Linked DNA regions of Homo sapiens: region 1 is linked to region 2. The links come from fine-mapping of genetic effects on gene expression. A gene starts in region 2. The other region holds a variant in brackets. All regions are shown on one strand. Distances are from middle to middle. Region 1 overlaps TGOLN2 (trans-golgi network protein 2). Region 2 holds the start of RETSAT (retinol saturase).

The links. PIP is the estimated chance that this variant, and not a neighbour inherited with it, causes the effect. A credible set is the group of variants that fine-mapping cannot tell apart.
Region 1: its variant is the best candidate, but not a certain one, in a credible set for the expression of RETSAT in whole blood (TOPMed, PIP 0.74).

What each region holds. Positions count from the first base shown.
Region 1 is chr2:85,313,460-85,318,830 of GRCh38, reverse strand. It overlaps TGOLN2 (trans-golgi network protein 2), which reads left to right. Exons shown (of 4, transcript NM_006464.4): 4 at 1-804. Among named protein-coding and RNA genes, the nearest start is that of TGOLN2, 12 kb to the left of the region's middle. RefSeq lists an enhancer at 4,946-5,371. The variant AAG/G (reference allele first, on the strand shown) is at 3,395.
Region 2 is chr2:85,352,555-85,357,917 of GRCh38, reverse strand. RETSAT (retinol saturase) reads left to right here and starts at 3,390. Exons shown (of 11, transcript NM_017750.4): 1 at 3,390-3,582. The coding sequence starts at 3,411. It overlaps ELMOD3 (ELMO domain containing 3), which reads right to left and starts at 3,149. Exons shown (of 14, transcript NM_001135022.2): 1 at 3,089-3,149; 2 at 2,748-2,842; 3 at 2,320-2,363; 4 at 666-951. The coding sequence starts at 719. RefSeq lists enhancers at 2,693-2,752, 2,387-2,886, 2,923-3,322, 2,887-3,388.

The DNA of each region.
Region 1 (5,371 bases), 39 kb after region 2:
TCAGGGGAAGTTGAAGGCCAGTCTGTGTAGAAAGGCTGAGGCAACGGGGAAAGACCTGACAGCTAGTTACATACGCTCTGACATAGTACTCCCATGATGGCTTCCAGTGACACATGTGCTGATAGAATTCTAAACCTCTGGAATTTCCCTGCTGGCGACTTCTATGGCCGTTGACTGTACAGGGTAACCTGATGCCAGATGCTATGGGCGTGATGAGAACTAGAGCATTGCAGCATGGAGGAAACTGTGAGGCACCAGATCCTGTGCTTCTGCAGGCCATTTTCTGAAAACCCCTGTTAGGAAGGTTGGATTTGGCGTGACTTGCTTGAGCAAGAGTCCTGGGGAGAGATTTTGAGGTTTAATTTAACGGTATATCCAGAGCTAACAGTGACTCAACTCGTCTAGTTCTGCAAGTCAGATGTACACTTAGAGTCTCTCTGTGAAGGGTTTGGGTCTGAGCTGTATAGTATGTCAAACTGCCAGTAAGCCAGCCCCTCACCCTCTGATAGATATTCCTTTAATGCACCAGACTTCATGTTTGATAAATGATTAATGGTTGAAATTGTTTCTCTTCTTTTGTGTTTTCCCAGTTAATAGATGGTCACTGTTTCCACAATGTTTTATACTTTCAGCTTTTTGTAACTTAACTATAATTACTTAATTTTATTTTTTTAAAGCTTGTTGTGGTCTAATGAGAAGTATTTTTCAGTGCATAATGTTTTTCTGAGCTTCTGTAAATGCCATCCCAATGTGGTTTGGTTTTGTTGAACAGAAACCAAAATAAATTTCAAAATGTTAAAGCAATGGATTTAATACATTTATTTATTTATTTATTTTATTTTATTTTTGAGACAGAGTCTTGCTCTGTCACCAGGCTGGAGTGCAGTGGTATGATCTTGGCTCACTGCAACCTCCGCCTCCCAGGTTCAAGCGATTCTCCTGCCTCAGCCTCCCGAGTAGCTGGGACTACAGGTGCGTGCCACCACGCCCAGCTAATTTTTGCATTTTTAGTGGAGACGGGGTTTCACCATGTTGGCCAGGATGGTCTCAATCTCTTCTTCGTGATCCGCCCACTTTGGCCTCCCAAAGTGCTGGGATTACAGGTGTAAGCCACCACGCTCGGCCAATAAATTTATTAATATTATATTAAGATGAACTCCAATAAGACCTTTGGCATGTCAGTTTAACATAAGTGAAAGGTCCTTTTTATGCCTTTTGAGCCTTCCTTCACCTTCCATCCAACACACACATGTACCAGTAAATTGCAGATGCCATTTCTGGGCTTTGCACACTTTCTCTGGCTTTCCATGTTCTGCTCCTGACCAACTCTCTTGCCACCTGACTCCTCCCAGCCTGGCTGCCTGCTTTCAGTAGCTGGGCCATTGCTGGGAACACTCTGTTGCCTCCCTGTGCTGTCCTCTGCTGTGCCATTGTGTGGAATGCCCTGCAGCCTGCCTCAACACAATGAAGTAATCTTACCAGTCGATGCCCTGACTCCTGACGTCACCCTTCCCTGCCCTGTGTCACCTTTCCCTGCATATTTGGAGGATAAGGCTTGATTGAGGCTCGGGTACCGAGCTCCCTGAAGGTGCCTTGATGCTGGCACATCGAGAACCAGATGCCACCCCGATGATAAGGAAGACAGACCCGGGACTTCCATATGAATTGGGTATGATCGTCTGACATGCACCCTACTAACTGATGGATCCTGCTGTTACCCCAAAGCTCCAGAACCACACTGGCCAGACACAGGCATTTCCTGTCCCCTGAAGAGCCACTGAACCCAGCACAAAAGAGATCTAGAGCTCTCCAAACCTATGGAATGGCAACCAAAACCATGCCCAGGTTTTGAGTTAAGCCTCATTAGTCTCCCTTTTCCCTTGACAGTGTAGAACTGTGCAGCGTAGCACTAAGTGAATGAGAGCAGAAGCCTCAGGACAGAACTGAACCCACCAGCTTGAGCTGACAACACTGCCAGGGGTTCTGTCCACAGATGGAATATTCGCTTTGATCACTGAGTTAGGAGGCATGGGTGAGGGATGCAGAGCGCCGCTCGTCATGAGACATCAAGCTATCCAAGTCAATATCCTATTAGTAGGGATGGCATATTATAGAAGGTGGAAAGATCTCACCTGCCCCAGCTGGAAACAGTGATTCCATTGCCCCAGATTCGGAATTGTGATTTAAACTAGGCCTCTCTTCAGGCATCAGAACCAAATAAGAGTGGTTTATATGTGCAAGGAACTAATGCCCCAGCTATTGGGCAAATTCCTCTGACTCCTCCCTGATGGAACTAATTCTTCTGTGCCCAGATCCTAGAGACAAGATCCTTAAGGTCTGAGTACAAGTTCCACTTCAGGATGGCGCTGCTGCACAGCAGGGCACCTTGCAGGGCCCCTACCAGTCCACAGGTGAAGATACCCTGGCCTAGGAGGCAAGAGCAGAGGCCCCTGAGTGTGCACCCAGGCAGGCCCAGGGGAGGGTGGGGCCTTGGTGCTCTTCCCTCCACATGAGGGCCACCCAGAGCTGGCTCCAATCAGACAGGGGCCACAGCCTGCCCAGGCAGCCCTGCTCAGGGGATGGGAGGCTGCAGGGGACAGCAGGGCCTGAGGGCAGGAACAGAGGACGTTGGGCGACAGGGGCCCAGGGTCTCAGGTCCTGACAACATGGGGCAGTGAGTATACCTGTCAGAGGTTGGTGATGGGGCTCTGGGCCTTCAAGGCCATCACACGAGGGTGCAGGCGGCCCAGGTCATGGTCAGCCCTGTAGCAGACACCTCGGGGAGCAGCCAGAACTGGTTGGTGAGTGGGGATCCTGCAGTCACACTCTCCACCTGAGGGCAGAAAGGGTGGGGCAGGCATGTGAGATCCTGGCTCCCCTCCCTCTTCCACTCTTTCCCATTCACTGACTCCGGGGTTGGGTGCCCTGTCCTTCCCTGGGGCTCATGTCTTGGGGCCCAATTCCCCTGTCTCAAGGAAAGGGCAGAAATAGCACCATGAGGTCCGTCACCACCCCAAATACTTTACCCCCTACCTTCCCCTCCAGCTGTGGGAACAGTTTCAGGACCACTGACATAGAGGCTTCCACAAAGAAGTTTTTGAAGGTCTCATAGTCACTGCCCTACTTTCCCTTCAGTTCCACCTGCCACTCCTCAAACCACTCGTAGGTGCTGGGTATGAGCATGATCATGGTGGACCGGCCTGGGGATCAGAGCTGATATTACTACTGCCCGGCCCCTCCCTCCACCCCCTCACCCAGGACGTGCAGCCCCCCGTGGGAATCGGTCCTCCCAGGTCGGATCCTTGGCTGATGGGAAAGCGAAGAAGAGAAGAGGGATGTGTTCCGCAGCCTCTTCCCTGGGCATGGAGATGTAGCGCTCCATCCTGCGTGTGAC[AAG/G]AGTGTGGTGCGATCTCCAGGCTTTTGTCCTCAAAACCCCAGAACCACTGCAAGGACTGCTCGTCCCTAGGGACTCCCCACAGGGGTGAAGCTGAGCCACAGCCTTGGTGTGACAAACTTCCAGGTGCAAATTGGAAATTGCCTACTTCCTCCCATTCCATAACTTCTGCTCGTTCTCTGAGTCAAGCAGGGAGGCACGGGCCACACACACACGTGCACCTTACGCCTGGTCCATGTCCGTGTCATAGTAAACATAGTAGTTGGTGGACGGCAGATGCAGGTCCTCCTTGGTGCCTCGCAGGCAGATGAAAACAGAGGTCATGCCTAAGCCGGGCTGAACTGTCCCCAGCTGCTGCTTCACACCTGCAAAGGGGAGTGGTTGGTGCCTTTGTGGACCATGGCCGGAGACAGCCACTCCCTGCTCCCAGGAGAGCCTCAGGGTGACCGCTCGCTGTGTCCTGAGCCTTATCTTCAGTTGCCAGCTTTGTGCCCAGGCCACTTTTACAGCTGTTTCAACTTGATGTTGGCAGGGGCCTGCTCTTCTGTGTCCTCCTGCCTGGGAAGGACACTGCCCCAGGTTCCTATTCTTCCACCTCCCCTGCCTCTGCTCCAAGCCCCTTCAGAGGCAGGTAAAGCCCAGCCCTGGTCCTCAGCCCCCATGAGCTGGCTCAGCACCTGCAGGAAGGTCAAGCTTACTGCCTCCCATCTTCCCCTTCGTGTCTTGAAGTGTGGAGCACATGACTGGGTTCCCCCCATGAAGACCACACATGAACAGCAGCTCATTACCAGCCTGATTTCAGGATGAACTTTTATGCAGTCACGGAGTGAGTGAACATGCATGATTCTTAGTGTGACATCAGAACACAAGGCCTCCAGAGGGATGCCAATGCATGTGAGCAAAGGCAGGCAGCCTGACTGGTACTTGGCATCTCAGGACTCAGCTGGAGGGAGGAGGGAAGAACTACACTATGGCAGAGGCCACAGCCACTGTGGGGCACCTGATGTTCCCCAGACCTAAACAGCTGGGCTTCCCCACTCCTCAGCAGATGACCTGAGACCGGTGTTCCGGAAACTGCCCCCACAGATTCTTCTGCTGTCTTCCCATTCCCGTGCCAGAGGGATGCCGGGTCCCTGGCTCCTCTGCTTTTTCCATTTTTTAAAAAATTTATTTATTTTTAGATGGAGTCTTGCTCCGTCGCCCAGGCTGGCATGCAGTTGCGCGATCTCTGTTCACTGCAACCGCCTCCCGTGCTCAAGCGATTCTCCTGCCTCAGCCTCCCAAGTAGCTGGGATTACAGGCATGTACCACCACACCCACTAATGTTTGTATTTTCGGTAGAGATGGGGTTTCACCACGTTGGCCAGGCTATTTTCAAACTCCTGACCTCAAGTGATCTGCCTGCCTCGTCCTCCCAAAGTGCTGGGATTGAAGGCGTGAGTCACCGTGCCCGGCCTGCTTCGTTCATGTAACTAAATATTTGTGAGGCCCTCAGGTTGTGTTCAGGAGGAAGAGACACAGGAACACAGATGGAGGGCAAGAGGGACAGATGGCTCTAGCTGGGCTGCCTGGGTGAGATGCTGGGGCCTGGCCAGGACAGTGTCAGTTCCCAGAGGTCCTGGGACAGGGGAGAAGGGAGGTCAGGGTCACAGAGAGAGAGGCAGGAAGTAGCAAAGGCAGAGTCTGCCTGTGCACCAAGCCCGACCCCCCTGCTCTGCCCCTGGGCCGTCTCTACCTCACCCCCTCAGCTCCCCCGGTCTGAGAGAGGGGAGGCCGAGCAGGCTGCAGACCCAGCCACATGGGGCAGGGGAAGGAGAGGCTGGCATTGGTGGAGCCACCCACTGCACTGCCAGTCATACAAAGAAGTCTATCACACAGAATTATGTGCAGTATTTTTTTTTTTTGAGACAGAGTTTTGATCTTGTCTCTCAGGCTGGGTTGCAATGGCACAATCTCGGCTCACTGCAACCTCCACCT
Region 2 (5,363 bases):
TTTATCTCTAAAATATTTGGTGATTCATTGTGCTGAACAACTTCCTGCAGGCATCTGTGTACCTGAGATTCATTTCATCCTTCCTTTCCTTCTCCAATTCAGTCCCCTCCAGTGTCCAAAGACTTCCCTCTTTGGAACAGTTCGCATATTACTACAGTGAAGAAAATCTTTCTGGAGACCCAAAGCAAAGGCTTTGTCCCAGTCTGGCCACTGAATCCCACAGCCTCCATTTAAGACCATTTTTGGGTGGGCAAAGTAGTGTGAAAGGTAAGGCATGTAGGGTTAGCTGCCCGGCTCATACAAAGACATATCACATTGAACTGAGTCCTGAGGATGATCAGGCCAAAGCAAGCGTTTCACAGGGAAGAGGCTAGTAAGGTAATGATCCAAATCAATGAAATACAGATTTCTTGGGTGATTCCTCAATGAAATTCTCCCCACTACCCAAGCAAAAAGAAAACAAAAATCTCATAACTCACTTACAAAACAAGCTATTAGGAAAAGCAATTGACCCTGAGGTGAATAGAAGCTCCTTCTTACAGAACAAAGAGAACTATAATGAGGGTTTCTAAATTTTTCCAAATATTCTCTTAATATATTCTTACTATACTTAATGATATATCTCAAACCAACACCACCTTTCCCAAATAAGAGTGCATGCTTACCTGTCCATCTCTTAATTCTTCTTTACTATGGAAAGAGCAAGATTTTTCATTCATGACTCAAAATCATTTGTTCATGTGAGCTTTGTCCTTGGGCCCAGAAAGCATTTTAGTAAGGTCTGAGATCAGAAGCTATGTGGAGAGCCAGAGATCCAGTTGCTCTACCTTTGCCTTCCTTGGCAGTCACTCAGACTAAGAGTAAGAAAACAGTCCCTTTGTGCCATCCGAGGGTGTAGGAGGTTTCTGTGAGTGCTGAGAGAAGTCCTCTGAGGTCTTCGAAGCCTCAGCTCTGCACAAAAGAAAAAAAAGAAATTGAAAAAGAAAACTGGTTTCACCATTCAGTTATGCCTCTGTTGACAATTTTTTTTTTTTTTTGAGTTGGAGTCTTGCCCTGTTGCCCAGGCTGGAGTGCAGCCGTGCGATCTCGGCTCACTGCAACCTCCGCCTCCCGGGTTCAAGCGATTCTCCTGTCCCAGTCTCCCGAGTAGCTGGAATTACAGGCGTGCGCCACCACACCCTGCTAATTTTTGTATTTTTAGTAGAGATGGGGTTTCACTATGTTGGTTAGGCTGGTCTTGAACTCCTGACCTCGTGATCCGCCTGCCTCGGCCTTCCAAAGTGCTGGGATTACAGGCATGAGCCAACACGCTCGGCCTGTTGACAAAATTTAAGCAGCTGTGAATTTATTCTGAATGAACAACTTGCCTCAGCCAAATGCTTACCTCTTACTACCCAAGCCACAGGATGGCCAAAAGGGGACCACACAGGGGACTGTGAGCTGGATTCTGTGTCCAAAAGGCAGCAGCACCACTAGAAGGGATGGGGTCTGTTTCTGACAATGGAGTTACTGGGACCTGGGCCAGCTTATCAAAGGCGTGAGGCTAAAGGTGTCACCTTGGTGGGTGGTCTTAGCTGAAGTGCTCAGGCTTTGTTTAGGCCTCACACACAGGCTGGGTCAGGGGCTTATAATACTAGACCTGGTTCCAACAATGGTAGAAATTCAAAATGCAACACGATGTTCTAACCTTTCTCAGTTATCAGCAATACTGTGCATGTGGCAGCTGGCTAGCCAGTTTGGGCAATTCTAAGTCTTTCATCTGACATTGCTTCCCTCAGGAAAAGGGCTGGACAAGGCTCATACCTCATCACAGGGGAATTGGACATCCGGAATGTCTGTCACATCAAAAATTGCATCCTAAGTGGGCAGATGGCCCACACACAACTGACAATCATAGTTCACAACTTTGGGTGACTAAGGAAGGAGGGTAGCCTCTCTATGAGGTCAGCCCTCCAGGATGCCATAAAAACTGGCTGCTGGTGTCAGGATGCTTTGATTATTAACACTGAGAGGAAGAATACCTCCTGGCTCTTGGGCTTGACATGTGGCTCACTGTAATCCGGGGGACAGGGCAATGCCCCCTTAGTCCTGGCACCCCAGGAACTAAACTGCTCTCACTGTGGCCTCTGGGGCCTCAACATCTGCCTCCCCTTTCCTTTTCCTCCATCATGGCCTCCATGACAGCCTATGACAAAACACACATTGGCCAGCCTTGGCAAGGTGACAGGCGGGTATGGTAATAGCAATCTCAGGAGGGCTCTTCTGTTGCTGTGTAGAAAATGAACCAAGTAGCATAGAATCGTGACCAGCTTTCCACACCTGGCTGGAGCACTCCTGGGGCCTTCAGTAGGGACAGTTACTATCTGTAGCAGAGAAGAAAAGAGCAACAATTCCATTAAACAAGGAAGTACTCAAAGGCAAATTCCTGATAGTTGGACCTAAGGAAACGGCCTTCCTGTAAAAATGGATCCTTCTCCAATCAAGTATTCATTATGCACCCTCTTTAGGCAAGGAGGGGGTATGATTCTTCAACTGCTTGCTGGAGGTTAGATTCTCTGCATAGGAATTTAAATTAGATGGGCCCTTAGCTGATCCTTTCACCATGCTTGTCCATGGGCGGCTCCCCGTCCCCCAGGTTCCCCACGGATGGGGTGTCATTAGGGACCCGCCATAGAGGACTCCGTCCCAGGCGGGCCCCCAGGACAAAACTATGGGCCACTTTGAGGGGCACAGAGACAGACGCTCACCGGTTGTGATGCGCAGGTAACAGAGAGCTCAATTCATCATGACAACCAGTCAGACAGGGGCTGTGAGCAGCCTTTGGACAGAACTTTCGCATAGCCTGGAGGCGTAAGACGAGGAAAGCAATTTAACACCTCAAGGCAGCGAGTCCAGGGCAGAGCCAGGACCAGAACTCAGGACTCCTGTCTCCCAGTCGGGATTCTCTTTCAGTCTTACAACTCTCGGCCTTGTCTCGCCCCATAGTGATAATTTCCACCGGATCACATTCTCCCTCCCTCCTCAGGCCGGCTGCTAGCTCCGCACAGGCACCAACCACTCCCCTTGGCAAGTGTTAACGCGTTCTCACCGTTAAAAGAGCTTTCCAAACTTGGGGGTCCCGCCGCCTCGGCTAGGCCTCATCTGCTCATGCGCACAGCCGCTTCCGTGCCGGCTCCCCTGGCCCCGAGAACTACATTTCCCAGTAGGCAATGGAAACCCAAAAGAAGTACGGAGAGCCGGGAGGGTCAATCATCACCTGAGAGTTGGCTCTTCGCTGGCTGGCTGGTTAATCAGTGCTCAAAGCTGCCTCCGCCTCCTGACTGGAGAGCGAACTAGCCCGGGCGGAGCCACAGTCCTAGAGGCTGAGCGCAGTCGGAGCTGTCCCATTTACCCGACCCGACGCCGGCGTGATGTGGCTTCCGCTGGTGCTGCTCCTGGCTGTGCTGCTGCTGGCCGTCCTCTGCAAAGTTTACTTGGGACTATTCTCTGGCAGCTCCCCGAATCCTTTCTCCGAAGATGTCAAACGGCCCCCAGCGCCCCTGGTAACTGACAAGGAGGCCAGGAAGAAGGTTCTCAAACAAGGTAGCAGGAGGGACCCTGGGGTCCGGGGCTGCACTCGAGGCTTTCTCACAGATTTGGGTTCTCATTTTGCCAAGGCAGCCGCTACCAGACGTGGGCCTTAGTTTCCCCATATGTAAAGTACTAGGAGGGCTTCCTTGCACGTGGAGGAGCCCCGCTTTAGTGTGCAACACTGTCGATAGCCTTTGCCCTAGTAGGCCCCGGGAATAGTAGTCCCAAGGGTGTGGTCATTGTCCTTGGTTTGCAAGGTGTTGGCACCCGCCCTGCCACTTGTAATCCCCGTGGCTCGTGGAACTGATAATCCCCGTGACTCATTCCTCCACTTGGTTCCAGGACCTTAACTTTTTCACCTACCCTCCCATGCGAGCTCAGGGGTGTGGGGGAGCAGCACAGAAATGCGTAGGAAATTGCGTTTTGCCCGTCCGGTGATTTAACAGGCTTTGCATGGTCCCAAATCGTAAGGATTGAACCCTAGTTCTGAAACATTGGCAGAGGTTCAACAAGGCGCCTCAGGCTCAGAGCCTGCTCTCCACTCTCATCTTTAAAACATATTTTGTGGTTGCTTCTAGAGTTTAAAGAGTTCTGCTGCTTTAAAAAATAATGGATCACCTGTTTGATCTACGGAGTCCCTCTCACTTGTAAATTTTAGAATTCTCCGTGTCATATCTTGCTACACAATCGGAGACAGTACTGTTCTAAGTGGAAGGACTAATCATCTGGACTTCTGAGAACTGAGTTTTAGCTTGGACTCTGTCACTAATTTGCTGCATAACCATTAGCACCTACCTGGGCTGGTCTAAAAATGAGATGACTAGCTTAACTGCTTTTCAAACCGGATTGTGATCTATTAGTGGGCTATGAAATCAATTTAGTGAGTTGCAACTGGCATTATTTATTTATTTATTGAAACAGAGTCTCGCTCTATTGTCCATGCTAGAGTGCAGTGGCGCGATCTCCGCTCACCGCAACTTCCGCCTCCTGGGTTCAAGTGATTATCCTGCCTCAGCCTCCCGAGTAGTGGGCATGCCCAGCTAATTTTTGTATTTTTAGTAGAGACAGGGTTTCACCATGTTGTCAAGGCTCTCGAACTCCTGGCCTCAAGCGATCCGCCCACCTCGGCCTCCCAAAGTGTTGGGATTACAGGCGTGAGCCATCACGCCTGGCCACAACTAGTATTTTAGAATGCAGTAGAATAGAAAATATCAGAGTGCATTATACATAGTTCCACTAAGTATTGCATTGTGACACTTGTTTCATGTATTTATCTTATATACTTACATGTGAAATTTTTTTTTACTATTGATCTCTCTAAAAACATTAAAAAAATAAGCAGTTTGCCAAGTTCTCTTGTATCTTGAAACATCCCAGATCTCAGTTCTTTGCCAGTGATTGTTAAAGAACAGATCTTGTGTCGGAAGTACCCATATAGCACCACTTGCTATCCAGTTTTGTCTTCTGAGAAGGTGCTGCCTCCCTCAGCACTGCCCCCAGACCTTCCCTATGGGAGGGGCTGGTGCTGTGATTTCTCAGAGCTGCAGCCTCTGAGCAGTTCTGTCCTGCCCAAGCCTTTTCATCAGGACCTGGAAGAGCCACCATAAGACCCAGCTATTCCACTATTGCTTGCAGACCCTGCATCTTCCAAAGAAACCCGGCTTGTGGGCTGGTGTGTTGGCTCATGCCTGTAATCCCAGCAATTTGGGAGGCCGAGGTGGGTGGATCACTTGAGGCCAGGAGTTCAAGATCAGCCTGGGCAACATAGCAAGACTTTGGCTCTATAAAACATA